4 linked regions of the Homo sapiens genome follow. The protein of the gene in region 2 interacts with the protein of the main gene of each other region in a pairwise test. Each region holds a gene or a part of one and is shown on either strand. Other genes may lie near its edges.

Region 1 (7,533 bases), on a different chromosome or scaffold from region 2:
AACACTTTAAAAACAGCAGGTGCAACAAGATGACTTTGACCTTCCTGCTGTTTCTTAAAAGCAGAGGGTGAAATTCCTATGTGAAAGATGCCCTCCCTAGATGATGCAACATTTTTATATAGTCAAAGTCGAAACTGGGAGAGTTCTGTACAGATCTTGTTAAAAATAACTCTTATCTTTTAAGCCTCTCCATATAATTTAGTGGCTTCTTCACAACTAACTCTTCTCTGTCCAATCCACTACATAATTAACTGACTTTAGCTACTTCTTTGGGGTCTTCATTTCTTTATGAGGGCTCCTGTGCTGCGTGAAGTTTGTATTAAGTTTTTCTCCTGTTAATCTATCTTATGTGGATTAAATTCTTGGACTCAGCTGGGACCCTAAGAGGAGGGAGGTAGACTTTTCCCACCCCTACAGTGTGTATATATCAGGGTTCCAAGCCAGGTTGTCTGGACAGAGGAACCCAATTCCCTTGAGTTGAGGGGCTGTCTTTGCTTTTAAGCCGTTGCCCTGCAGAAGGGGCTTGGTGTTGCGGTTATTCTGGGGGAGCGTCCAGTCCCAGGTGAAATGACTCCTGCCATGCCCAGCTACCAGATAATGAAGCTTCTTCCCAGGGTCACAACTCCAAGAATGAGGAACGCCTCGTCCTCAGGCCAGCGGCGCAGCTGAGCCTCTCTGGGCTCATATCACAGTCACCATAACTGCACTGTCTCCACTCTAACGGGGCTCCCAGATCACAGACCCTACCGGCCGCCGCTCTGGCCCGCCAGGATCCTCACGCTTTTAAGTCAGGTGCGGTTTCTGGAAGAAGCCTGGTGGTGCCACATCTACAGGCGAATCAGATCCCAGAGCAGACAGAGCTGACCACCTGCCCTGTGGGGCGTGCAACCCCAGGTGCAGATTACAGACAGGGAAGGAGGGAGGAGCTTAGCTGAAACCCCTTCCTGACCCCTTTCCAATAAGCACTCAGGGGTAGCAAAACATCCAGGAACTTTTAGTTCTGGGTCAGCTGGGACAGCGGTAGGGACAGCGTCCTGTTCGTGCCTTCTCTGAGTTTTCTATTAGGTGCCACCAAACACATTCCCACCCAAAAGAACCATTATATTGGACCTTACTGAAAAGGTTAAAATATGCATTCTGGCATGGTAACTGTTTCAGTGAAAGGCACTTGAAAAACAGCAGGTGCAAGATCACTCTCCCCATAGCAGAAGGAAGACAGCATCCTTATCCTTAGGACTAGAAGCTGCCAGCTAAAGAATACTGCAGAGCGTCACTCTAATCTTTTTAGTCACATTTTCAAAGTTTATTCTTCTCTGTTTAATCCAGTATTTAAGTAGTGGACGCGAACTGCTTGCTCGGGTCTGTCCCTCTTTCCTTCCTTTCCTTCCCTTCCTTCCTTCCTTCCTTCCTTCCTTCCTTCCTTCCTTCCTTCCTTTTCTTTGCTAGGGCCTGCCTTTCTCTGTTGCTTTCTTTCTTGCTTTCTTTGTTCGGGTCGTCATCTCTTTCCTCTTTCTTTCTTTCTTTTCTTTCTTTCTCTCTCTGTCTTTTCTTCCTTTCTCTCTCTGTCTCTCCCTCTTTCTTTCTTTCCCCAAGGAGGATTTGCCTGCCTGCCTGCCTGCCTTCCTTCCTTCCTTCCTTCTTTCCTTCCTTCCTACCTTCCTTCCTTCCTTCCCCCTTCCCTTCTTTTTCTTTTGACAGAGTCTCACTCTGTCACCCAGGCTGGATTGCAATGGTGCAATCCCGGCTCACTACAACCTCCGCCTCCCGGGTTCAAGCGATTCTCCTGCCTCCCGAGTAGCTGGGATTACAGACGCGCGCCACCGCGCTGGGCTAATTTTTTGTATTTTTTAGTAGAGATGGGGTTTCACCATGTTGGCCTGGCTGGTCTCGAACTCCCGACCTCGCGATCCGCCCGCCTCGGCCTCCCAAAGTGCTGGGATTACAGGCCTGAGCCACCGCGCCCGGCCGGGTCTGCATTTCTGTATGAGGGCTCCCATGCCGCGTGAAACTTGCACTATGCTTTCCTCCTATTCATCTATCTTATGTCAATTTAATTCTCGGACCCAGCCGGGACCCCTAGAGGATGGAGGTGGAGTTCTGCCCTTACACTGAAAGCACAATCTTCCAAAAGCAGAGACACTCTTCAAAACTTTGAAAAGAGACTTTTAGGTCCTAGGGCAATGGAATCTCGTTTTCTCAAAAAGCCCTGCTTGCTTACCCTCTCGTTTTCCCCCAGGCCTGTTTTCTGGGACAGGGTGGGAGGCCCAAGGAGACAGCCAAGTTCAGGCCCCAAGCACCCAGCTCCTCCTCCCAGGGTGGGAGCCTGGCCAGAGTTCCCGACCCACCCCGCCCCATTCCCCGCTGGCGCTTGGTCCGCCCCTCCCCGTCTGGAAGCCTCCAGCAGCCCCGCCCGGCGGAACTAGGGGACGGGTGGGGGACGTCGAAGGGCGAGGGCGGTGACCCCGGGGCCAGAATTCTCGCAGGCGCCTGGGCCGGGTGCCCGGCCGTGCGTGAGTGCGGAACAAGTCTGGGCGCGGGGAAGGGCGTGGGTGCGGGCCGTGGGTGGGTGCGGGGCAGGGCGCGGGGCTGTGGGAGGGCGCGAGGCCGTGTGTGGGTGCGGGGCTGGGTGCAGGCCGTGGGTGGGCGCGGGGCCGGGGCTGGCGGGGCAGGGCGCAGGCTGCTGCAAGGCGGCCTCGTGGATTCTGGCCCCGGACGCACGAAGCGGGTTCTACTTTTTAAAAAAACTGCGTTGCCTTTTCCTTCCTCTACGTTAGCATCCTGTCCGGGGTCCCCGGCCCATGTGGCCTTTCTTCCAGCGACAGTACACTTAGCTCAGAACGGATTGACACCCACTCTGTGTTTCCACCGGGCGCGCAGGCTCTGCAATGCGGAGCGCGTTCTCTGAAGGACAGGCCCCGGAGTCACGGCTACAGCCACAGAAAGCGGAAACCGAGCTGCAGTCCAGAGGGGATCCCCGTACATTTCCAGCGGGCTCAGACACAGGGTCCCCCACAAGAAAGAAACAGGACAGAAAAAGTCAGGACACGTATGCTGTGGAGAGTCGAGGTCTCGCCTAGATCTTGGGTGTGGGTAGACGCAGCCGCTGGCAGTTTTCCTTTCCAGCGTCTCTGGGGAGCCTGGAGATGTCCTTGGTGCCGATGTGACACGAAGAGTGATTGCGCCGCCCTGCAGAGGCGGTGGCGGGACGCTGCGCTCGGGCTGGGAAAGGCCGGCCCCAGGGCGACCCCTCCGGAGGCCCCCGGAGAGCAGGTGTGCACCTCGCCTCCCGCTGGGCAGCCAGTTCAGGAGAAAAATGTGAAGCTTTTAGCTAAACAAAATATTTCTTTCGTTAAGGGCTTTCTCCACACGGAGACTTTCTAGCCACGTGAGACTTTGACCTCCCAGTCCCCCAGATTCAGCGCTGGGACCGAGCGTCTGCTGTTATTTTTAGTAGAAGTATAAAAAGAATCTCGAAAAGTTTTAGCTCTGGAGAAGGCGTGAATACAGCTGGTGCCTTCATACACTCCACTTGAGCCGCTCTTTAAGAACTCCAGGAGATCAGAAAGCAATACGAAAGCCAGAGCATTGCACATGGGATGGGCTGGCGGGTGGCCTTTGGGTCCCTATCTTATGGACGATTTTTGTAAATGGGGCATTGGAGATGAGTATCACCTGGATCACATTTTTAGGTTGAATTCCTCCGTGGGGGGAACTTTAGCAATACGCATCCAAATAAGAATGTAGATTGCAATAATTGTAGTAAAGTGTTTGCCAGACTCATCTCAGAAAAAGACATTATCAAAAGGCATTTATTATCTTCCTAATGCGTGTCTGGCACTGGGCAGACACTGTAGAATACTATCTTGATTAGAGTCTCAAGGATTTTGTACTTAAAGTCCTTTACAAATAAAAGTATTCAAGTATAATCTATTATAAAGACTCTTTTCTCCACTTTGGGGATATACGGTGTGGCATCGATTCATTGGTCATACCAAAACTGTTACTTCTGTTTTGGAGGAATTAACAAGGAAAACCCAGGCTTAGTAAATCAACATCGAAGTTCAGAAGTTCAGAGTAATTTGTCTTGGGAACAAAGTCCTCCCTAGAGCGAAGAGGCATTCACAGGAGCTCTTGGTGTTAATGGGATTATTCAAGATATACCTGAGACCAGATAAATATTTGATGATTTTGCCAAGCACTAGGGTTTCTTTGCAGTTTGTCTTTGGCTGACGTTTTCCCCCCGTGGGGTTTGGACTTTGTGGCTTCACCAGATTTTGCAAATGAAAGAAGGCTGGGGTTTCCCAAGAGTACACTTGTGCAGGAAACAACAGACTAGTGAGGTTTACAAGAGGGGGGTGTGTGTGTGTGTGTGTCTGCCTGTGGGATGGGGGTGGCACGGGGGAGAGAGAGATGTGGGTTACAAAGCTGCCATCTAGAGGCTAGAGGCTCCTTTCTGCAGTGTATATAATGCAAGTCTGCAGCCAGCAGAGCTCACAGTTGTTGCAAAGTGCTCAGCACTAAGGGAGCCAGCGCACAGCACAGCCAGGAAGGCGAGCGAGCCCAGCCAGCCCAGCCAGCCCAGCCAGCCCGGAGGTAAGGAAACGGTGCTCGGGCAGCAGCTCTGCTCGGAAAGAAGGCACGGCTTCTGCTCTTAAGCCAAGTGGTCTTTTCAAAGGCCTTCTTTAAAATCGCTCAGATGGGTGCTTTTGAGTCTGCGGGTCTGGTTTCTGAAAACCCAGGCTGCACGCAGCTGCATTGCAAAGTGCTTTTGCTAATTCGGAGGGCTTCACCTTTCTCTTCAGAAAGCAAAGGGCAGTTTTCTTAAGTCACTTGCAGAAGGAAATTTCCATGTGTATTTAGGAATCTGGTGTTTATTTGCTGTGTGGCTATTTAAGCTCCAGTAAGCAGGGGAACTTTGCAAGAACACAGACTATCCATTCTGCCTGACCAATTTGGCATGGGGATTAGCTTGGCACCCACTGTTTACCTGTTTTGCTTCTAGTATATCAGTTTGGAAACAGATAAAATTGGCAGTAAATACGTAATTCCAGAATGATGAACACTTTATTAAGAGGCATCCTTAAATGGAGCAGAAAACTGCTGAGAATCTTTGTGAGTCCAAGATGTATTTGAATTCAGTACTTTGGGGGATTTACCAGAGTCTGTAAGTCCGGAAGCTATAAACGTGAATGTTAAACACAGCCCGGTCTTCTCTTCTCTTGATGGCACGCTTGCTAATCTAATTTGAGTATTGTTCTCTTAGAAGGTGTTAAGTCCAACTTCAATTGGGGTTGGGGGAAGCACACACACAAATCTACTATTTTGCAATTTAAATATACTCTTCAGGTAAAATGTGGATTTTGTTCAATTTTGTTGGCATGTGCAAAGATTCAAGGAGTGACTGAGAGAACTTTGGAGTGAGGTCAGGGATGGGTGGTTAGCCAAGACTTGTAACTTCCAGGGAGAATGAGAAGTTGTAAAAGTCAGACTGGCTGTCTCTCTTTCTCTCTTCCTCTTTCTTTCTTTCTTTCTTTCCTTTTGCTCACAACAGGATTACTTAGTGTTTCAAAAGTGGGAGAGAGCCTCCTTAAATGGTTTACAGCCCTTTGAATGTATTTGGTGCAGTGACATCCCCTGAAACTTCAGTCTGCAAAGTCTCAACATGGTAACTTTGTTCTTTTCTTTTTTAAAGGCAGATGCTGCTTTTAGTGTCCCTTTATTTATTCCAGGAAAAATGTGGACATCAGCTAGGCACGCCTAGCAAAGAAAGTGGAGGCTGCTGGTTTCTGTGCTTTAACTTTCCATAGATTTTAAATGGATAAACTGCTTGCCCTTCTTTCATCAGAATATGAGCTTTCCCCAGATGGAAAGTCTTTTCTAAAGCAAAGTTGCACATGGGAGCTCTAGCTTGGAAACAATTTGCTCTTTTTTCCCCAGTCTCTGCCATAAACACTTGAATGTGCACACAACTGCAGAGCTTAATGCCACAACCTCCAGGAGATTGGGGGGAGGGGAAAGCTGCCCAGGATGGGGGTGGGAAAGCGAAGGAAGATGGAGAAATGGCTGCAGTTTGCTGCCCATCAGCTTTTCTCTTTTAAGGGGCAGACATTGCAGACGTAGTTTTAAAAAAGTTCCATAAAGCATCGCCAAGGCAGCATGCCTGTGCGACACACGCAGGGCTTTGGGGGTGTGTTTTCCCCGTATTAACAGCAAGTCGTTGAAGCGTTGAGAAGGTATTATGATTTCTAATCAGGCCCAGAACAGGCCAAGTATAGGCTTTCTGAATGAAAAAAAAAAAAAAAAAAAAAAAACCCAAAACAAAAAACCCTGCTTAATCAGGAACAGTGGCTTTTTGTGTGATCATTTTAGGGCGAGAGCTCCTGTTTTCAAGTCGACGTGAGGGAAATTGGTTGAAGTCACTCAAACCTGAGGCTGAAGGGCAGTCACTTTATAAACCTTAAGAGTAACCGAGGGGAAAGAAAAAGACCTCAAAGATTGCAAAACTTTAGATTTTTTTTTTGTGATTTTGTAGAACATGAGGGGAATCTGGGGCCAGAAGGCATTTGTACCTTTAAACCAGGCAATCAAATAACTTAGTTTTATTATTAGAAGCAAGAATAGTATTAAAACGCCTTCAATTGGATTGCACGTGTGTAGGCATAATTCAGGAAGAAACTAAAGATCGTGTCATGTCAAGTGTTACTAAAGTTCAGGAAGGAAAAGACAAAGCTCCAGGACACGTATTTTCTGTTGAAATAAAAGAAAGCAAGCCAGAAATAGACAGATCAGGACAGGGAGGCGTGCAGGCGGTGGCCCTGATTTTGAATATTTGATGGTTTCCTTCAGGGAATGTTTGATGCTTTTATCGACTAATTTGGAATTGAAAAAAACAAAACAAAACACTATTGCTTCAATATTAAAGTGATCAGGGAATTGCATAATTTTATGGTGACAATTTTAAAGAGCCACAGGTAGTTTTGGAAGCAGACTGTGTTTTGTTCCAGGCACTGAAAAAGTGGATGGGGGCCGAGACTATCTCAGGTGGCCTTGAACCACTGTTGGCAAAGGGACAGATAACGAGCCCAGGGCAGTGTGGGGGACTTTGCGTTTTGAAGTCTGGGTCAGCCAGATAGTAAGCATCTTTTGCTTTTCCTGCTATAACAGATATGTGGCCATCCTCCCTCAGTTGTATATGCAGAGCCTAAGTTTGCACAGTGTCCTCCTGGGAACCCCATTGTGTCTGGCTTAGGGCGGGGGTGAGGAGGCTCTCCTAGCCTGGCTGACCTCCCACTGCCTCGTCCTAGTCCTAAGCTGGGTGGGAATCAGGGCTCTGGTTACACTGGGCCGGCCCAGACGGCAGCCTTTGTGACGTGGGAATCTCTGGACCTGCTCTTGTGGGTATAGCTTTGCTTCCCTGTCGGGCAGCTGAGCACAATAGACCAGATCAGGTTTCTGGACGTGGGATTTATTTGATCCCCCAAATCCTTAAAGTGGACGAGGGTGTCCCACGTGTTCATGTGAAGTATGTCTAAG
Region 2 (7,140 bases):
GACGATCCACTATGGAGAAGGGGACAGCTGGTCTGGTTGCCACCGTAAAGTGGCCCAGAGGAGGCAAGCCCTGGGCCAAGGTCACACAGCACGCCAGGCAGGGCTGGGGCAAGACCCAGGGACAGCCCTACCTCGTCCACCAGCAGCTGGGGGTAGGACTTGACCGGTATGCTGATCACGTTGGGGCCGTAAATGGCCTTCCTGGAAGAGGGGATGAGGCCAAGCCATCAGAAGGAGGAGCTGTGGCTGGACCCTCCCGGGGTGAAGGAGCTCCCCACTTTCAGCTGGGGGAACTGAGGCCCAGAGAAGGCAGGTGACTGGAAGGCAACCACATTGGGGGGCAACACAAGGAGCCCCAGTTCTCAGGGCACCCCGGTCCAGGGCAGCACTGACCTCACCATTTGGTCCTGGAGGCTGAGGCCATGGCGGGAGCGGTGGACGTCGTCACAAGAGCGGCCATGGTCCAGGAGGCTGGGGGTGGGTGCGAGGGGACACGCATGGGCCATGGGGCCTGAGGTCTGCATCCCCCACCCTGTGCAGGCTGGAGACTATGGGCTCTAGGCCCCCCATCCCCGTTCTGCCACACTGAGCTCCTGGGAGCAAGTAAGCCCCCTTGAACCCAAGGCTTGGCTTTGCCCTTTTGTTCCTCTCACTGGGTTCCAAACCAAGTCACTGAAGAAGGAGAACAGCGAGAGATGATGCTAATAATATGAACAGTGAAAAGAGTAGCTGTTATTTAGTGATAAGGGCACTATTTACACTGATGATACCCTGGGCAAGTCACTTAACCTCTCTGTGCCTCAGTTTTCTCATCTGCAAAATGGGGGCAGTGACAGCACCTACCACATAGGGCCATGGGTAGATTAAGTGGGGCAAGCCTCGGGGACTGCTTTGGACGTGCCTGCCACTTGCTAAGTGATGAATGCACGGGTGATTTTTGCTATTATCCCCATCATGCAGCAGAGGCTGTTGCTGCCATCCCCATCTCCCCTCTGCCTCACCTCCACATGACAGCTGGACCCTGAAAACACCTGTCTTTACCTGAGGCCTTCTGGCTGCATGTGAATCCCCTGCCTGTGAGCCCGGAAAGCGTGGAAGACTTTGTGTCCCGTGACTGATAATGGCAGGGAATTTGATGGTAACTGTCCTCACTCCCTGTGTGAGGTCGCCCAGAGGTGTGTGGTCTACGCTGGCCCAAGGAGATCCCCAGGCGACTGAAGTCCGGGTGTCCACAGCTGTGGCAGCCAGCATAACCTCCCTCCGTGCTTCCATCCCTTCCCCAGCACTGCCTGGGATCAGCTTCAAAACAAACTCCCTGCCCTTGAGCCCTTGTCTGGGGGTCTGCTTCTGCGGCATTCAAACTAAAGTGTGTGAGCAGGGCCCGGTGGCTCATGCCTGTAATTCTAGCACTTTGGGAGGCTGAGGCGGGTGGATCACCTGAGGTCAGGTATTTGAGAACAGCCTGGCCAACATGGTGAAACCCCGTCCCTACAAAACATGCAAAAATTAGCTGGGTGTGGTGGCATGCACCTGTAATCCCAACTACTCGGGAGGCTGAGGCAGGAGAATCGCTTGAACCCAGGAGGCGGAGGTGCAGTGAGCCGAGAATGCGGCATTGCACTCCAGCCCGGGCAACAAGAGTGAAACTCCATCTTAAAAAACAAACAAACAAACCAAAAAAACCACACACACACACACACACACACACACACACACACACATACACACAAACTAAGGTGTGTGGTGAGCTTGTGTTTCTTTTTCTTTTTTTTTTTTTTTGAGATGGAGTCATGCTCTGTCATCCAGGCTAGAGTGCAGTGGCGCGATGTTGGCTCACTGCAACCTCTGCCGCCCAGGTTCAAGCGATTTTCCTGCCTCAGCCTCCCAAGTAGCTGGGATTACAGGCACATGCCATCACGCCCAGCTAATTTTTGTGTTTTTAGTAGAGATGGGGTTTCAGCATCTTGGCCAGGCTGATCTTGAACTCCTGACCTCGTGATCCACCTGTCTTGGCTTCCCAAAGTGCTGGGATTACAGGGGTGAGCCACCGCACCCAGCCTGAGCTCATGTTTCTTAAGCCTTTTGTAGGTGGCAGAGCAGTGACTAAACCCCAAGCAGACAGTCTGAGTACAGAGCTGATAGTCTGATTCACAGTGGTGTCACAACCTCAGATCACATTCGGTGCCAAGCTCTACATAAATTATTATCTATTTCACCATCAAAACAATCCTAGGAGGCAGAAGTTATCTTCATGCCCTATTTATAGACAGAGATCCCAGGCCTGGAGGGGCTCAGTAACCTGCCCAAGGTTTCAGACAGCAAAAGCATCAGAGCTGAGAGGGGAGCCCAGGCCATGCCATGCCACCGTCTGTGCCCAAACCAGTGCCACTCTGGGAGGTGACATGAGCCACACAGGCCCTGACTCCTACCTGACCTGGTAGAAGGCTTGCTGGGTCTCGATCCAGATATAGCGCTGGCCCTGGAAGAGGTAATACCGCAGCACCCGCTTCTGGGTGGGAGAGAGGAGAGGATGGGTTGGAAGCTGGCCCCGGCCCCAGAAGCAGTGTGCTTATGCTGGGAGCCGAGGGATGGGGGTAGGGGGCAGGGACTGGTGTCACCAGACAGAGAGGTGGGGAGAGGCCTGAAAGTGTAAACGTGCTCAGACAGCATCCTGGATGTTTGGGACAACAGAACTAAAAGGTGGTGGGAGAACATGAAGTCTGACTCTCCCATTGCACAGATCATGAAACCGAGGCCGAGAGAGGGGCAAGGACTTTTTCAGAACCCACCTGTCCGACACTCACCGCCTCCTCGCTCTTGTGGAGCTGGGCCGTATCCTTCCAGGCACCCTCTGGTACCGCCCCAACTGCCGCCTGGCTCCGGCCATCCTCTGCCTGGGACTGTGGGGACGGCTCCAGGCTGGGGAAGCAGGTGAGGGTTACTCTCGAGCTCTGGGAGCTGCCCTGGCACCTCCCTGTGCTCACAGAGCCATCTTCCCTCCCTAGGATGGGAGGCGCCAGAGTCAGCCTTTATGGGGGGGCCGAGGGTTGGGGAAGTTGGGGAGGCCAGGGTAGCAGGGGCTTCTGGGAAGGGGCAATGGGGCTGCCTCACCTGCCCTCGCCGATGGCCTCAGTCTGCACCTGGACAGTGAAGAGCTGCCAGGAACTATCCTGGAACACAGAGGTATGGACTCAGTCTCAGAAGAGTCCCCTCCCCTCCCAGGCCCTGTCCTACAGCCAGGCGGCCCCTGCTGGAGAAGGCAGAAATCAAGGCTATGGAGAGCCCTCCAGAAACCACCCGACCCGTCCCTTCTGCCCAATGCTCAGATGGGAAAGCTGAGGTCCAGAGAAGAGCGGGACCTGCCTAATGTCCCATGGAAAGTCAGTGGCCGGGTTGGCACCCAAGCATCCTCCACCCCCGACCCTGACCCTCACTGCGCTTCTCTAGCCCCAGGCTCAGCCTGACTCTCACCTCTTTGTCTCTTATTTCGATAACGAGTGTTTCGGCGTGGGCCAGGTTGCAGGGCCGGAGCCGCAGCCGCACCCCCCACAGGGGCTTCCAACGGAAGAGCAGCAAAGGGATCCCAGCCATCATCCAGACCACGACGTGATAGCCGATGACCCTCCATGGACTGCCACAGTAGCCGCTGAGCCTCTGCGAACGCAGCGAGAGAGGGCCCAGGTCGGGGTGGGAACGGGGCTGGAGTAGGAAGTTGGGGTGTCTGGGTGGGCCTGGGCATTCACCCCCTGCAGCTTTTCCCCACCCCACTCTGCCCACTTACCACGGATGAAACTGAGGAGCTGAGGGGATCTATTGATGTCCCTATCGTCAGGGTCCCATAACCGGTGGGCGTGCTGCCCACGAGAGGGCTGCTGTCTGTGGACAGAAAAGAGAAAGGTCATTTGGGGAGGCACCTTCTCCTCTTGCTTCCTTAAAAACAATAAACATCAGCCTGGGCGCGGTGGCTCACGCCTGTAATCCCAGCACTTTGGGAGGCCGAGGCGGGTGGATCACCTGAGGTTAGAAGTTCGAGATCAACCTGGCTAACATGGTGAAACCCATCTCTACTAAAAATAAAAAAAATTAGCCGGGCGTGGCAGCGCGTGCCTGTAATCTCAGCTACTCAGGAGGCTGAGGCAGGGGAATCACTTGAACCTGGGAGGTAGAGGTTGCAGTGAGGCAAGATCACACCACTGCACCCCTGCCTGAGCAACAGAGTGAGACTCCATCTCAAAAAACTAAACAAAACAAAACACAAAACAGTAAGCACCTGGTCTGACAGAGCCCAAAGCTCATGTCTTCCTGTGTCCTTTATCTGGCTCTTCTTTCCGTCGGTTCTTACTTACCGTATCTTTTTTTTTTTTTTGAGACGGAGTGTCACTCTGTCACCCAGGCTGGAGTGCAGTCACTTGATCTCAGCTCACTGCAACCTTTGCCTCCCAGGTTCAAGCGATTCTCCTGCCTCAGCCTCCCGAGTAGCTGGGATTATAGGCATGCACCACCATGCCCAGCTAATTTTTGTATTTTTAGTAGAGATGGGGTTTCACCATGTTGGCCAGGCTGGTCTCGAACTCCTGACCTCAAGTGATCTGCCCACTTTGGCCTCCCAAAGTGCTGGGATTACAGGCATGAGCCACCGTGCTTGGCCAGTAGTGTCTTGTTTCCTTGCGTGTGTCGGTCTTTCTGCTGGGTATGGCCCAGAATTGGAGAATGGGGCCTGGACAGTGCCCCAAGCCCCCATGGTGCTCGTGCATCCAGCCATTAGCTTCCTTGGAGCTCTGGGTCTCACTTTTCTATCCTCATCCAGTCCCCACCCTGAGGGCAGGGGTCAGGGATGCTTATCTTCATTCCATGCCCGTGCCCAGCCCAGGTCTGGCAGTGAGGAGATGCAAAGTCAAGTCTGGACTAATAAACGGTCAGCCCTGCAGGCCTATCTTTACAGATGGGTAAACTGAGACTTGGGGAATGGTATCAGGTGGTTCTATTGCAGATATTCTTTTTTTTTTGAGATGAAGTCTTGCTCTGTCGCCCAGTCTGGAATACAATGGCATGATCTCGGCTCACTACAACCTCTGCCTCCCAGGTTCAAGCGATTATCCTGCCTCAGCCTCCCGAGTAGCTGGGATTACAGGCGCCCAGCTAAGTTTTGTATTTTCAGTAGAGACGGGGTTTCACCATGCTGGTCAGGGTGGTCTCAAACTGCCGACCTCAGGTGATCCACCCGCCTTGCCTCCCTGAGTGCTGGGCTGACAGGCTGAGCCACTGCGCCCGGCCACAGACATTCTTTTCACTCCTTCCTCCTGTGCTGTAGAGCTGTGGCCTTAGCAGGGCAGGCAGCCAGTGGATGTTCTGGGGCTCCAGAGCGGGTAGAGCTCACCAGCCCCACCCTTGGACAGCCTCTGTCAGGGTTCATCTACGGTCCCAGACCACCTGGAGCACCTTTTACATATGCAGATGCCAGGGCCCTCCCCAGACTGGCTGGATCAACTCCTCAGGCCGGGGTAGGGATGGTGCTAGGCATCTGTGGTTTCACAAGAGCCTCTGAAAAAGCTCACTAAGCTGGAAAAGCTGGGCGGGTGCGGGGTAGGCTGCTGATTTTCTGGGCTCCCTCCTTCATCCCCCAATCTGAGCCCTTCTAAAATTTTTCCTTTTTTTTTTTTTTTTTTTGAGAGCGAGTCTCGCTCTGTCACCCAGGCTGGAGTGCAGTGGCGCGATCTCGGCTCACTGCAAGCTCTGCCTTCCGGGTTCACACCATTCTCCTGCCTCAGCCTCCCAAGTAGCTGGGACTACAGGCGCCCGCCACCACGCCCGGCTAATTTTTTGTATTTTTAGTAGAGATGGGGTTTCACCGTGTTAGCCAGGATGGTCTCGATCTCCCGACCTCGTGATCCGCCCGCCTCGGCCTCCCAAAGTGCTGGGATTACAGGCGTGAGCCACAGCGCCCGGCGAGCCCTTCTAAAATTTCTACCCAAAGAGTCCAGAGTGCCCCAGGCAGCTGCTGTGGGCACAGCACCCCCAGCCTCTGAGCAGCCCCATCCCCAAGCACTCTGGCTTCAACACTCCTAGAGGGCTCACTGTGCACAGGGTACATGGCTAACGTATCAACCCTGCCAGGTAACCTCGGTTGTGATGTCCTTTCATTCATTCATTCATTCATTTATTTACTTATCACTCTTGTAGCCTCGGCTTCCCAAAGTGCTGGGATTACAGGCGTGAGCCACCATGCCCAGCTTACAGTTTTCGTGTATAAGTCTTTTTTTGAGACAGTCTCTCTCTGTCACCCAGGCTGGAGTGCAGTGTTGCGATCATAGCTCACTGCAGCCTTGACCTCCCAGGCTCAAGCAATTCTCCCACCTCAGCCTCCAAATAGCTGGGACTACAGGCACAGGCCACCATGCCCAGCTAATTTTTTTTGTAGAGACAGGGTTTTGTCTTTTTGCCCATCATTTGTTCCTAAGAATTTCTTTTTTGATGCTGTGTTTCATACAGCAAGTGCCTTTGCCTCTCTGGGCTTCCATTTCTCATCTCTAGGATGATAGTCCCGAAGCATCCAGCACACAGGGAGGTAGAAGCATTTGAAGTTCCTGGGGGGGTTGCGTGGACAGGTGGGCAGGACCCGGCTCCCAGGTCAGGGGGGCGTGGCTTCTGCTTATCCATTTCCCAGGCTCTCTTCTCCTTTCACATCACCCTGTCTGAAGCCCTGGCTGTCCCACGGCTCCCTAGGCCCATTCAACAGTTGCTCCTTGTACCTTAAAACCCTCAGGCCGGCCGTGCGCAGTGGCTCACGCCTGTAATCCCAGCCCTTTGGGAGCCCAAGGGGGGCGGATCACGAGGTCAGGAGGTGGAGACTAGCTGAGACCATCCTGGCTAACACGGTGAAACCCTGTCTCTACTAAAAATATAAAAACCAAATTAGCCGGGCGTGGTGGCAGGCGCCTGTAGTCCCAGCTACTTGGGAGGCTGAGGCGGGAGAATGGTGTGAACCCAGAAGGTGGAGCTTGCAGTGAGCTGAGATCACGCCACTGCACTCCAGCCAGGGTGACAGAGCAAGACTCAAAAAAAAAAAAAAAAACCCTCAGGCCAACAGCCCAGCGGGCTCAGGGATGATGGGAAAGGAGCCATCCCTGCGGTGCTGATTTG
Region 3 (7,140 bases), about 140 Mb from region 2:
CTCTTCTAATACAAAGAGGGAGGACAGGAGAAATGGAGAGAGGGGAAGTGTCTATGGCAAAGGTTTGGGCCTAGAAGGGTGAAGCAATTCATTGAATTGCATTGTAAAATGGTCATAAGAAGACATGTGCATGACGGCTGGGTGCAGTGGCTCATGCCTGTAATCCCAGTACTTTTGGAGTCCGAGGCAGGTGGATCACCTGAGGATAGAAGTTCAAGACTAGCCAGGCTAACATGGTGAATCCCCGTTTCTACTAAAAATACAAAAAATTAGCCAGGCGTGGTGATGGGTGCTTGCAATCCCAGCTACTCGGGAGGCTGAGGCAGGAGAATAGCTTGAACCTGGGCGGTGGGGGTTGCAATGAGCTGAGATTGCGCCATTGCACTCCAGCCTGGGCGACAAGAGTGAAACTCTGTCTCAAAAAAAAAAAAAAAAAAAAAAAAGACATGTACATGGTATCATTTACACCCCTAGGTTAGGGTTGGGAAAGGGAAGCTGAGGGAAAAATTACTGAATTATTGTCATAGCTTCTCAGCTGTGAAAAATAAATTCACTGGAGGAAGATCACATCATTTTGGAGAGGAAATTAGCTCCCATATCCCTGATATAATGAAGGATCTACAAATGGTAGGCCAGCCTGTTCCAAGTAAGCTGGACAGCATCAGGATGCCAACCACTAAGTGAAATGGTGAAAGCTATTGAACCTTCTCTCACCAGGAAGTTGCTTCTTAGAGGAGACCTCATCTGCCAGGCCCTCTGTCTTACTCTGACCACTGCTTATCCTTGACATCCAAGAGCTTCCTCTCTACAGCCCTTCTTTGCCACCCAACCCACTCCCCTCCCACTTCCATTTATCCCCTGAGATATTTTCTCCCCCAACCTACCATTGCTCCCCAACACACACTTCCTACTCACCTGGATATTCCTTTTGATGATGTCCCTGGTCAGTTGTACCTTGCCTGTGCTGGGGTCCACCCCTGCCAGTGGCACCATGACCTCGCCAATGACATCATCCCGAGAGAAGCGGTCAAAGCTGAGGACAAGGAAGTGCAGCACCAGGTCCTGCAGCTGGCTGTAGGGGATGCCATAGAAGGTGAAGGTCTCGTCAAACACAGGGTCCAGGGTCTTCCGCAGCACTCTGGTCTTCACCCGATGCCGTTTGTCAGGAAGGATGGTCATTTTGATGTAGGGGTCAGATCCCTGGGTCTGGTCATCCATCACTGGCAGCCCATGGGCCTCCTGGATTGTCACCACCAGGGCTTTTTTCGGGAAGTTATAGTCCACTGAGAAGGTGAGGGATCCTAGCATGACATCCTCCTCTGGAGATGATGGAGAGGTGGTTTTGCTCTCCCCAGGGGTCAGGCTTGTAATAGGGCTCCTTAGTTCTTCCCCATAGTCCATTTTGATGGGTAATTGGTCTATACAAGATCCAGAGCTAGGCCCCCTGGGATCTTTGTCTCGGCTTAGCAGGCCAGCCTCTGCTGCGTCCACCAACAGGTTCCTACGTCCACCTTCCCTCCCAGGACCATCTTTGTCTCTCCGCACTTTGATGATTTTCTTCTTGTTGCTGAGGGTCTCTGGGTATATGCTGATGCCTTTGAGCATGTGAATAAACTTGTATGGTGGGTTCTTCTGCTTCTTCTCTGCCTGCTGGTGGCAGCATGACCAGACAAAGACGGTCACCGAGACACACACCACCAGCACAGAGGCCCCGATGAGGCCGGCCACCACCGGTGACACATCTGAAGGCGGAGATCAGAGATGTGTCAGGGCGGGTGGACTTCACCTCCTGTCTAGATCTCCCCTGCTCATTGCCACTGCTGGAGCCAAGCTAATCTTCAATCTAGCCTCTAAAGCAAAATGTGCTCATCTGGGCTTCAGAATTTTTCCCTTCTATTAGAGGCACCCTCTCCCAACCTCTCCAACCACTCCACGGCTTTTCCTCCCAGCCTTCTATAGAAAGCCTTCTCTGAAGCACCCCACTTGACTCTATGTTCTTTCCTAGACCTTCTCTCAGCACTTATAGACTTGGTTTGCTCATACTGATTTGTGCTTCACATAAAGCTGCTCTGTACGTGTTCTAAGATCACCTTTTTACATGAGCACCTGTTCACTTCAACTGTTACACAAGATGTTTGGTTTCAGGATATTCCATAGCATCCAGAACAGGGCCTGCACTGACTGACTCGCTGTCAGGCTAGGGTGGAAGGGTGTGGAGATGAGTTTAGATGGTCTTGGTAGGGTGTTCAGGGTAGTAAAAATGGATGGGTGCCAAAAGGAAGAATTCTGGGTTTATGTACTTTTAAAATATGTTCCAAAATTTTAGCTCCCAGGTATATAAAATACAAGGCTGGGTGCAGTGGCTCACACCTGTAATCCCGGCACTTTGGGAGGCTGAGGCAGGTGGATCATTTGAGGTCAGGAGTTCAAGACCAGACTGACCAACATGGTGAAACCCCGTCTCTACTAAAAATATAAAAAATTAGCTGGGCGTGGTGGCATGTGCCTATAATCCCAGCTACTTGGGAGGCTGATGCAGGAGAATCGCTTGAACCTGGGAGGCAGAGGTTGCAGTGAGCTGAGATCGTGCCACTGCATTCCAGCCTGGGTGATGGAGCAAGACTTCGTCTCAAAAAAAAAAAGGTATTCCTCCAGGATGAATATATCCATTGTAGGCAAAAAAATAGGTGTGTGTATGTATGTATATATATATATGTGTGTGTGTGTGTGTGTGTGTGTATGTGTATATATGTATATGTGTGTGTATATATGTATATATGTGTGTGTGTATATATATGTATTTATGTATACATATATTATTCTAAATAGGAAGAAATAGAGACTTTCTCTTTTCATTATTATTACCTTAATAAATCCTTCACTGGAAGAAATAGGGGTTTTCTTCCCTATTAGTGGAAAATGTCAGATCTCTGCTCAAATGTCACCTTCTTAGGCCTTTCCTGACTCACCTATTTAAAAGTGCAATCTTCTCCATCCTCACCACCCACTCTTCCTAGCCTTGCTTAATTTTTTTCAACATGCCGTCATTCTCGCTCTCTGATACACACACCCCTACACATGTAAGAAAAAAATATATAAAATACATACACAAATATGTAAGAATAAACACCCACACGCATATTATTTTACAATTTATTATTTATCTTCACTAGAATATAAGTCTCATGAGGACAAAAATTTATGTCTGTTTTGTTCACGGCTGTACCCTCAGCACTTAAAACACATAGCAGGCACTATGTGTTGGATGAACAAATAACTAAACAGAAATAGGCCGGGTGTGGCGGCTCACGCCTGTTATCCCAGCACTTTGGGAGGCTGAGGCAGGCAGATTACCTGAGGTCAGGAGTTCAAAACCAGCCTGGCCAACATGGCGAAACCCTGTCTCTGCTAAAATAAAATACAAAAATTAGCCAGGTGTGGTGACACACACCTGTAATCCCAGCTACTCAGGAGGCTGAGGCAGGAGAATCACTTGAAGCCGGGAGGTGGAGGTTATAGTGAGCTGAGATCGTGCCACTGCACTCCAGCCTGGGCAAAAGACCGAGACCCCATCTCAAAAAAAAAAAAAAGAAAAAAAAAAGAGAAAGAGAAATAGATTTTTTTTTTGTTTCCCTTACCCTAGTCTTATCTTTTCCCACAAAAATTGGACCCTCAAGTTTCTTCGCTCCCTCAAGTTCATTGAGGCTAAATTGGGTTTAGGCTTTAAAGGTCCAGATTAGGCCTATAGTTTTTTCCACTTTACTTTTTAGGGGACCACTTGGAAGGGAGGGAGAACTAAGGAAATAAATGTAGCCTGGGCAACATGGCAAAACCCCATCTCTACACAAAAAAATTACAAAAATTAGCAGGGCATGGTGGCACATGCCTGTAGTCCCAGCTATTTGGGAGGCCAAGGTAAGAGGATCACTTGAGCCCAGGAGGTGGAGGTTGCAGTGAGTTAAAATCGTGCCACTGCACTCCAGCCTGGGCAACAGAGCGAGGAAAAAAAAGAAAAGGAAATAGACATAATTCCAGCATTTCCCCGATTCTTTCTGGAATATTCTTTTTTTTTTTTTTTGAGACAGAGTTTTGCTCTTGTTGCCCAGGCTAAAGTACAATGGCACGATCACGGCTCACCGCAACCTCCGCCTCCAGAGTTCAAGCAATTCTCCTGCCTCAGCCTCCCGAGTAGCTGGGATTACAGGCATGCGCCACCATGTCCGGCTAATTTTTGTATTTTTAGTAGAGACAGGGTTTCTCCACGTTGGTCAGGCTGGTCTCGAACTCCTAACCGCAAGTGATCCAATTGCCTCGGCCTCCCAAAGTGCTGGGATTACAGGCATGAGCCACCGCGCCCGGCCTAAAGCATTCTTGTATCAGGCATCTGTGCAGCTCACTGCTTCACTTATCGTGAGCCCCGAACCTCACTGGATGAGGGAAATATTTCCTGTCTGCCCCAAGTAAGATAATGTCCCCATCACCCTTCCTTAATTTTCTTCATGGAGCTTATTATCCTGACATATATTTATTATCTTTCTTTGATCACTAGACAAGCTTAATAAAACAGCAACTTTGTCTGTTTTGTTCACTGCTATAGTTCCACGTCCTAGAACTATGCGGCATGTAGTAAGCGTTCAGTGAACAAAAGAGTCAGTGAATTCAAAACAGCCTCCACAGATTAGAAAGAGAGGATTGAGGCCTGGTGCGGTGGCTCATGCCTGTAATCCCAGCACTTTGGGAGGCTGAGGTAGGCAGATCACCTGAGGTCAGGAGTTCGAGACCAGCCTGGCCAACATGGTGAAACCCTGTCTCTACTAAAAATTCAAAACTTAGCCTGGCATGGTGGCAGGTGCCTGTAATCCCAGCTACCTGGGAGGCTGAGGCAGGAGAATAGCTTGAACCTCGGAGGCGGAGGCTGCAGTGAGCTGAGATTGTGCTACTGCACTCCATTCTGGGTGACAGAGTGAGACTCCATCTCAAAAAAAAAAAAAAAAAAAAGGATTGAGTCAAGATGATTACATATATCAGGGATAAATGTAAATTTCTATTTGGACTCAAAAACCTATTTATAGTCAATAACCTCACTTGATGAGTCAAAAATGACTTAGGAATTTAGGCAACCACAATCTTGGACTATAATTAGTATAATGCCTACTGTTTTCCCTTCTATTAGAGGTATCCTCTCCTATCCTCTCCAACCAATCCATGGCTTTTTCTTCCCTCCAAACCTAGATGAAGGGTTTATCTTCTCTAGAAAGCCTATGAGCATCATGAGCACAATACTATGAGCATAATGTCCAGATTACATGAGAGGCAGGTATAATTTCATCTGCACTGGTCATAATATACATGTAATATTGTGTATAGCAGTGACAATAATAAAATTGCTATTTTTTGTGTAAATTTATATGTCCCTGCCAGGCATTGTGGTAGAGCTTACTTTTTTTATTTCTTTTGAGACAGCGTCTCATTTTATTGCCTAGGCTGGAGTGCAGTGGCACAAGCTTGGCCCACTGCAACCTCCACCACCTGGGCTCAAGTGATCCTCCTGCCTCAGCCTCCTGAGTAGCTGGGACTACAGGCACATGCCATCACACCTGGCTAATTTTCGTATTTTTTGCAGAGATGGAATTTCACCATGTCACTCAGGCTGGAGTGCAGTGGCATGCATGATCGCAGCTTACTGAAGCTTTGACCTCCCCAGTTCAAATGATCTTCTTGCCTCAGCCTCCTGAGGAACTAGGACTACAGGCATGTGCCATCATGCCTGGTTAATTTTTTTTTTTTTTGAGATGGAGTCTTGCTTTGCCCAGACTTGAGTGCAATGGCGCGATCTCGGCTCACTGCAACCTCTGCCTCCCTGGTTCAAGTGATTCTCCTGCCTCAGCTTCCTGAGTAGCTGGGATTACCAGCACATGCCACTACACCTGGCCAGTTTTTGTATTTTTAGTAGAGACGGGGTTTCACCATATTGGCCACGCTGGTCTCGAACTCCTGACCTCAAGTGATCTGCCAGCCTTGGCCCCCCAAAGTGCTAGGATTACAGGCATGAGCCACCATGCCCAGCTAATTTTTAAATTTTTTTTAGAGATGAGTCTTCACTATATTGCCCAGGTGGTCTTGAACTCCTGGGCTCAAGCAATTCTGCTTTAGTCTCCACCAAATTGCTGGGATTACAGGTGCAAGCCACCATGCCTAACCAAGGAAGAGTTACATTTTATTTAAAATATATATTTATTGTTATTATTTTTTTAGAGACGTGGTCTCACTCTGTGGCCCAGGCTGGAGTGCAGTGGTGCAATCACAGCTCACTGCAGCCTTGAACTCCTGGGCTCAAGCAATCTTACTACCCTAGACTCCTGAATAGCTGGGACTACAGGACCATGCCACTATGCCTGGCTAATTAAAAAAAATTTTTTTTAGAGACAAGGTGCTATGTTGCCCAGTCTGGTTTTGAATTCCTGGCCTCAAGATCCTCTTGCCTCAGTCTCTTGAGTCGCTGGAATTATAAGCACGACCCACTGTACCCGGGTACATTTTAAAATAATATAGATAAGGAGCAAAACATTATTAACAAAATAAATCAAGGTGACCATGTCTATATCCATACCGAATAATAATAGTGTTTAGTCTCAAAGTATTAAATGAAATAGCTTTTAGGGAAAGTTTTCACAAAATGGAGACAGCCTTGGTAGTAAGCTACTTGAAGGCAGGCAGGAACAATATCCTATGGATCTTTGAATCCCTCAAGAGTCTCTTGCTTCTAATAGGAGTTCAGTAAATATTTGGTTGAACAACTAATTGGATTCAGTTGCCATTAAGAATGGGCACAGCCTAAGGAAGTGGCTCTCCATTCATCAATCAGGTGCTTTCCTGCAAATTGTTTGCTACTCATTAGTGAAACTGAACACTGTCTCTATGAGAAGAGGAACACAGCAAACTACCAAGACAGGCATATTTTTTGGAATGATCATAAAGAGAGATCTGAAGGCTTAGATTAGGAGACACCTGGGCAATTCTTTTGGCTCTATCATAGATTTATTCCCTGCAGCAGTGCGGTGGAGGAGCGGGGGGCAACCCACTGCTGCTTACATATTTACAATGCATCAACTTTTATTGTTAGAAAATGGAGATAGGGTA
Region 4 (7,502 bases), on a different chromosome or scaffold from region 2:
ATTTCTTTTTAAATACATGATGTAGAAATAAATGACATGGTTTTCAAACACGAATATATAGAATGTTAGAATGAGTTTGGAAATGTAGATATGCCTTCTTAAATAGAGCAAGTACACTATAGACAGAAGTGATTAGAATCATGAGATGCAAGCTCTGAAATGAATCAAAACCTCAGATTTCTGTAATGAGATATAATAGTAATTAATTCCTTGGGCAGTTGGAAAGAATTAAAACCTTAACACTATCATTTAGAAAAAAATACTCATTAAATTAAACCCAGTTGTTATTAATGCAAAAAAATGATGAAACATTGTAAAACCACAGGGGTATACTACTTGAAAATAATGCTTGAAGTTGCATAATAACTTAAATTTGAGATTTAAAAGTAAACTAATAGAAACATGGCTATGTAACACACCAAAAGTATATGAAACTAAAAACAGACTTTACTGAATATTAAATCCAAAGCTATTTCGGAAGGTGGAATTTTCTTCACCCTTCCTCCCAGGGCCCTGTGCCTGAATATCCGAAATAACTGGTTTCAAGAACTTGAACTCACTGGTCCCGGGGCCTCCCGTCAGACACACCTCATACTGGTAGCTCTGGGACAGGGTCTCAGCGCCCCTCACGTCCACCAGATGCCCTGGAAAAGGACCCTCGGGCACCGAGCAGCGACCCACCGAGGCCGCCCTGCTCCTCCTGCACAGCCGCACCGCCACGAACAGGAGCACCGAGAGGAGGAAGAGCGAAGACACCGAGGCCAACGCCACCACCAGGTAGACGGTGAGCAAGTCGGCCTCGGCCTGGGCCTGGGCCGGGGCCGCCTCCGGGAGAGGCAGGTAGGGCTGGGAGAAGCCGTCCACCAGGAGCAAGTGCAGCGTGGCGGTGGCCGAGCGAGGAGGCTCGCCATTGTCCTTGACAAGCACCACGAGCCTGTGCTTGGCTGCGTCGCGCTCGCTCAGCAGCCTGGCGGTGCGCACCTCCCCATTGTGCGCCCACACACCGAACAGCCCGGGCTCCGTGGCCTTGAGCAGCTGGTACGACAGCCAGGCGTTCTGGCCCGAGTCGCCGTCCACCGCCACCACCTTGGTCACCAGGTAGCCCGGCTCGGCCGCCCGGGGCACCAGCTCGGTGCAGGGCGCGGAGCCGTTCTGCAGCGGGTACAGCACGAAGGGCGAGTTGTCGTTGGCGTCCAGCACCAGCACGCGCACCAGCGCCTCTCTGCTCAGCGCGGGGGAGCCGCGGTCTGTGGCGCCCACGCGGAACTCGAAAGCCTGCAGGGCCTCGTAGTCCAGCGACCTGAGGGCGAACAGGTGGCCGTTGTCCGCGTTGATGGAGACCAGGGAGGCGAGGGGCAGGTGCGGGTCTTGGGGCGGCAGCAGCGAGTAGGTGACCTGGGCGTTGGTGCCCGAGTCTCTGTCTGTGGCGCTGACGCTGCCGATGTGCAGGGCGGGGCTGTTGTTCTCGCGGACGAACAGGGTGTAGGAGGTTTGGGTGAAGGCGGGGGCGTTGTCATTGACGTCGGAGACCAGGACCGTTATGTTGTGCTCGGTTTTCAGCCTGGGTGTCCCCAAGTCAGTGACGGTGATAGTGATGTTGTACTCGGCTCTGATCTCTCTGTCCAGCGCGCCTTCTGTAATTAGGATGTAAAAATTCTCCACAGAAGGTTTTAGTAGGAATGGCAGATTCTCTTGAATGTAGCAAACCATCTTTCCATTTTCTCCAGAGTCTCTGTCATTAATCTTAAAAACAGCCAGCGGCGTCTCAGGAGAATTCTCAGCAACAGAGTTGGAAAATGATGATACGATCAGTTCAGGGGGATTGTCATTGGTGTCCAATACTTCCACTAAAACCCTACATCTTGCAGAAAGGCCTCCACCGTCCATTGCCTGTATATTTATTTTGTAAGAATTTACTAACTCATAATCAAGCAATTCTCTGAGAAAGATTTCCCCAGAAAAAGGATTGATTTGAAAGGTTGTTCGAATATTTTCTGAGGCATCAAAAAATGAATAGGATACTTCCGCGTTGACTCCAGAGTCTACATCTTCTGCCCATACCTTAACAATAAGGAACCCAATGGGGCTGTTTTCTGGAGCCTGGGTCTCATACAGAGCCTGGGCAAACTGTGGGGCATTGTCATTGACGTCCAAGACAACGATGCGTACAGTAGAGGTCCCAGACCTGGATGGAGACCCACCATCCAGCGCTGTGAGGGTTAAGCTGAGCTCTCCCTGCTCCTCCCGATCCAGTGCTTTGTCCAACACTAGCTCTGGATATATCATGCCTTCATCACCGCCACTAATGTTAATATGGAAAAAAGAGTTGGGGCTGATCGTGTAGTTTTGGATACCGTTAAGTCCTCCATCTGGATCCTGTGCTCTTTCTAGTCTAAATGCTGTCCCTTCAGCTGTATTTTCTGATATTTTTAAGACTGTTTCTTTGTCCTGAAATACTGGCGCGTGATCATTTATATCCCTGACTCTCAGCTCAGCCCGGTAAATCTGAAAGGGATCATCCATTAAAATTTGGAAATACAGCATACAGGGCTCTTTAGGGCCACACAGCTTCTCTCGGTCCAGTTTCTCATTTGTGAGCAAATTCCCGGTATGTGAATCCAGGAGCAGGTATTGTTTGTTATCATCGGAAACCACCCTGGTTCCCCTTGCAGCCAGCTCCCCCTCTGCTAGTCCCAGATCCTTTGCCAGATTGACCACAAAGGATCCTTTCTCTGTTTCCTCAGTCACCGAATAACGTCCAAACCCAGAACCTGCCAAGGACACTCCCCAAAAAAGAAAAAGAAACAGGACTTGCCTTTGTCTTGGGAAGCACAACTCTCTGACAGCCATAGCTGCTGCATACGTTATTTCCTAGTTGGTTACAGCCACAGCTCCCAGCATAAAAGAACAGCAGTAGGAAACCCTGCACCTACGCCGTGTAGCCCAGGGGTCTTTTTTGTCCTTTCCCTTTCCCAATCTTTGGCAGCTAAAGCTTCTCTTTTAAGTTCATCTGTCCGTGTCTTCCTTTATTAGTGACTTGCATAGCATCCTCAGAGCAATTCCCAAACCGTCTCTTTAGCCTGCAGCGCCACCGTGTGGCCTCCACCAGATTTCAGTAGTTGTACCCATTTGGGTGTGTGTATTCAGACAATTTCCTTTAGTGCCTCATTTAAATTTTTCATGTTTATTTTCGTTTGTCTTGTAAAAATTAATGTTGAGACAGAGAAATAGTCACATTGTTGAGATTCTTCAATTCTTTTTGGGAAAAGTTAAAAATTCAACACTTGAAAATATGTTTCTAGCAATAACTCTGTCCACCTCACTGTGCTAAATTTAGCTCTCTACTAGTCCTTTCATCTCAGACACAACTCTCACACAATGTCAAGAATCAAAGGGAAAATGTTGCTGACATCTGGGATCACCAAAGTAACAGGAGATTTTACTTTTCCAGAAACATCGGGATAAGAACACCAAAACAGACAAAGAAAATATGTTTCACACCTTCCTCAACAAACTTCAAAATCTCATCACACTGATTAAGGAGAATCATCACTCTGTAATCTTGTATAATGCATTTAAGCTGTCCCTCCTCTATTCTCTCATAAAAACTTGTGTATACAACTATGATTGCCCTGCAAATATTATTGCTTCTTAATTCATGCAAATCTATTTCTTCTTCAATGTGTGGGCTACTTAAGGATAGGAACTATGTCCTAATCATCTGTGAGTGACAAATCAGACAAGCAATAAATACTGCCTGTATTAGGACATGCATAAATAAACTCAGATGGGTAGAACCTGAAACGTTTTCCAGTGCCTTTCAATTCCGACCACTTGAAAGTTTTTTTCTTTCATTTACTCTTTGCAATTTCTGTTTCCTTACTTTCACTTGTCTTTGTTTTTCTTGTATTAGCTTTAAAGTAACTTACAGGGTTAAATAAGAGATTGATCCTTATTTTAAGGTCCCCTCTTAATTGAAATTTAGCAGGATCTAACTTCTCTGCACCAAATAAAGGGAGGTAAAGAACAGACCACACTAACACCTATCTTAACACTATTAAAATTAAGAACAGCATTCTAGTGTCTTTTTTCATAGAATTTTATTCAAAGTTCTTTTTAAGTTATTTTATATTTTATTTTATTTTATTTTGATGGAGTTTTGCTCTTATTGCCCAGGCTGGAGTACAATGGTGCAATCTCGGCTCAAAGCAACTTCCACCTCCTGGGTTCAAGCGATTCTCCTGCCTCAGCCTCCCGAGTAGCTGGGATTACAAGCATGTGCCACCATGCCTGGCTAATTTTGTATTTTTAGTAAAGACGGGGTTACTTAACGTTGGTCAGGCTGGTCTCAAACTCGTGACCTAAGGTGATCTGCCCGCCTTGGCCTCCCAAAGTGCTGGGATTACAGGAATGAGCCACTGAGCCCTGCCTCAAAGACCTTATATCTAGAAAGAAGCTCTATTTTGTCTATAATAGGCCCAAATGGATTAAGTCAAGGAATGTCGTGGAGGAAAAGGCTAGACACTACCAATAACACTCTAATAGCTGAATATAAAAGCCGCACAATATAAACCTCTACTTTGTGATTGCTGTTGTTTTTTCAACTGGATGGCACTGGGCTATTAGCCATTAAAAATTTAACAGGAACCTCAGGAACCTCTGATTTGTTTATACAGAATTAAAAGGAGCAAATTAAATATTTTCACATGATCCTATAGAATGACTAAATTTTTTTTTTTTTTTTGGTTTCCAGACTAAAGCCCATTTACACACGCTTAATATCTTGCAGTGGTTTTTCTTCTAAGGCTAATTAGGGGTTTATTTATCATATCACTTACAAGAGAAACATTATATTTCAAATAGGGAACTATCAATGCCGGGAAACTAGAACTTTAAAATAAAAGGTAAAGTTTAAGAAAATTATTGTAGGCTGGGTGCGGTGGCTCATGCCTGTAAATCCCAGCAATTTGGGAGGCTGAGTGGGGTGGATCACGAGGTCAAGAGATAGACCATCCTGGCCACCATGATGAAACCCGTCTCTACTGAAAATACAAAAATTAGCCGAACGTGGTGACATGCAACTGTAGTCCCAGATACTCTGGAGGCTGAGGCAGGAGAATCGCTTGAACCTGGGAGGCGGAGGTTGCAGTGAGCTGAGATCGCGCCACTGCACTCCAGCCTGGGCGACAGAGCGAGACTCCGTCTCAAAAAAAAAAAAAACAAACAAACCAAAAAACAAACAAACAAACAAAAAACAGTTGTAATGAACAAGGATGGCAAACCAATAAGAACACCGGTTTCAAAAGAAAAATAGAAGAAATATCAAATAGTAAAAGCACATATTACATGCAGCAGACTATTTTAACAAGTAAAAAGTTTTAGGAAAAGAAGAACTAATGAATAATGTAGAGGCAATGAATTTAAAGTCAATAAAGACATTTAAAACGACCAAAAATTTTTAAATGATATCAACTTTGAAAAATATTATATTTCACTTATGGGATTCTAGTAAGAAATGCCTCATCAGGATACAAAATAAGAAAAAGTTAACTTGTGAAGTTAAGCATAATACGCAAAGTTGAAGATGAATCAAACAAAAAATAGTACCTTCTTTGTGGTGGGCATACACAATTTAGTTAGCCAACAAGAATATATTAAAGAAGTAAATGTCTTTATTAAGTGGGTTCCTTTCAATAATTAAATCCAAAGCTATTGGGGAGAGTAGAATTTTCCTCTATTTCTTTCCCACCCCTATGGGGCGGGAGGTGGGGGGTAATCGGCTTCAAGAACTTGAACTCGCCGGTCTCTGAACCTCCAGTCAGACACACCTCGTACTGGTAGCTCTGGAACAGGGTCCCGGTGCCGCTCACGTCCACCAGATGCCCTGGAAAAGGACCCTCGGGCACCGAGCAGCGACCCACCGAGGCCGCCCTGCTCCTCCTGCACAGCCGCACCGCCACGAACAGGAGCACCGAGAGGAGGAAGAGCGAAGACACCGAGGCCAACGCCACCACCAGGTAGACGGTGAGCAAGTCGGCCTGGGCCTGGGCCGGGGCCGCCTCCGGGAGAGGCAGGTAGGGCTGGGAGAAGCCGTCCACCAGGAGCACGTGCAGCGTGGCGGTGGCCGAGCGAGGAGGCTCGCCATTGTCCTTGACAAGCACCACCAGCCTGTGCTTGGCCGCGTCGCGCTCGCTCAGCAGCCTGGCGGTGCGCACCTCCCCATTGTGCGCCCACACACCGAACAGCCCGGGCTCCGTGGCCTTGAGCAGCTGGTACGACAGCCAGGCGTTCTGGCCCGAGTCGCCGTCCACCGCCACCACCTTGGTCACCAGGTAGCCCGGCTCGGCCGCCCGGGGCACCAGCTCGGTGCAGGGCGCGGAGCCGTTCTGCAGCGGGTACAGCACGAAGGGCGAGTTGTCGTTGGCGTCCAGCACCAGTACGCGCACCAGCGCCTCGCTGCTCAAAGCCGGGGAGCCGCGGTCTGAGGCGCCCACGCGGAAGTCGAAAGCCTGCAGGGCCTCGTAGTCCAGCGACCTGAGGGCAAACAGGTGGCCATTGTCCGCGTTGATGGAGACCAGGGAGGCGAGGGGCAGGTGTGGGTCCTGGGGCGGCAGCAGCGAGTAGGTGACCTGGGCGTTGGTGCCTGAGTCTCTGTCTGTGGCGCTGACACTGCCGATGTGCAGGGCGGGGCTGTTGTTCTCCCGGACGAACAGGGTGTAGGAGGTTTGGGTGAAGGCGGGGGCGTTGTCATTGACGTCGGAGACCTGCAGGGTTATGCTGTGCTCGGTTTTCAGCCTGGGTGTCCCCAAGTCAGTGACGGTGATGGTGATGTTGTACTCAGCTTTGCTCTCTCTGTCCAGTGCACCTTCAGTCATTAGGATGTAAAAATTGTCAACAGACGGTTTCAGAAAAAAAGGCAGATTATCTTGAACATAGCAAATTGTCTTTCCATTTTCTCCGGAGTCTCTGTCTTTAATCTTAAAAACAGCCAATACTATCCCAGGAGAGTTTTCAGCAACAGAGTTGGAAAGTGATGATATGATCAGTTCAGGAGGATTGTCATTGGAATCTAATACTTTTATCAAAACTGTACATCTTGCAGAAAGGCCTCCGCCGTCCATTGCCTGTATATTTATTTTGTAAGAATTTACTAACTCATAATCAAGCAATTCTCTGAGAAAGATTTCCCCAGAAAAAGGATTGATTTGAAACGTTGTTAAAATATCTTCAGAAGCATCAAAAAATGAATAGGATACTTCTGCATTGACTCCTGAGTCTGCATCTCCTGCAGACACTTTAACAATAAGGGACCCTACTGGACTGTTTTCTGGAGCCTGGGTCTCATACAGAGCCTGGGCAAACTGTGGGACATTGTCATTGACATCCAAGACCACAATGCGTATAGTGGAGGTCCCAGACCTGGATGGAGACCCACCATCCAGCGCTGTGAGGGTTAAGCTGAGCTCTTCCTGCTCCTCCCGATCCAGTGCTTTGTCCAACAC

The links.
Region 1: the proteins of ATP13A2 (region 2) and ACKR3 interact in a two-hybrid assay, tested with the Homo sapiens proteins (one study listed by BioGRID and IntAct).
Region 3: the proteins of ATP13A2 (region 2) and SYT11 interact in a two-hybrid assay, tested with the Homo sapiens proteins (one study listed by BioGRID and IntAct).
Region 4: the proteins of ATP13A2 (region 2) and PCDHB10 interact in a two-hybrid assay, tested with the Homo sapiens proteins (one study listed by BioGRID and IntAct).

Annotation. Positions count from the first base shown.
Region 1 is NC_000002.12:236,565,332-236,572,864, forward strand, and holds the start of ACKR3 (atypical chemokine receptor 3), read left to right. Parts: upstream 1-4,493; 5' UTR 4,494-4,593; intron 4,594-7,533. UniProt on the Homo sapiens protein: Atypical chemokine receptor that controls chemokine levels and localization via high-affinity chemokine binding that is uncoupled from classic ligand-driven signal transduction cascades, resulting instead in chemokine sequestration, degradation, or transcytosis.
Region 2 is NC_000001.11:17,001,903-17,009,042, forward strand, and holds part of ATP13A2 (polyamine-transporting ATPase 13A2), read right to left. Parts: intron 3,877-7,140; coding exon 3,782-3,876; intron 3,655-3,781; coding exon 3,472-3,654; intron 3,171-3,471; coding exon 3,112-3,170; intron 2,920-3,111; coding exon 2,790-2,919; intron 2,510-2,789; coding exon 2,430-2,509; intron 472-2,429; coding exon 394-471; intron 202-393; coding exon 132-201; intron 1-131. UniProt on the Homo sapiens protein: ATPase which acts as a lysosomal polyamine exporter with high affinity for spermine. Also stimulates cellular uptake of polyamines and protects against polyamine toxicity.
Region 3 is NC_000001.11:155,862,567-155,869,706, reverse strand, and holds part of SYT11 (synaptotagmin-11), read right to left. Parts: intron 1,743-7,140; coding exon 916-1,742; intron 1-915. UniProt on the Homo sapiens protein: Synaptotagmin family member involved in vesicular and membrane trafficking which does not bind Ca(2+). Inhibits clathrin-mediated and bulk endocytosis, functions to ensure precision in vesicle retrieval.
Region 4 is NC_000005.10:141,187,901-141,195,402, reverse strand, and holds the start of PCDHB10 (protocadherin beta-10 precursor), read right to left. Parts: upstream 3,051-7,502; 5' UTR 2,851-3,050; coding exon 448-2,850; 3' UTR 1-447. Other genes in the region: PCDHB9 (protocadherin beta-9 precursor), read right to left, coding at 5,691-7,502. UniProt on the Homo sapiens protein: Potential calcium-dependent cell-adhesion protein. May be involved in the establishment and maintenance of specific neuronal connections in the brain.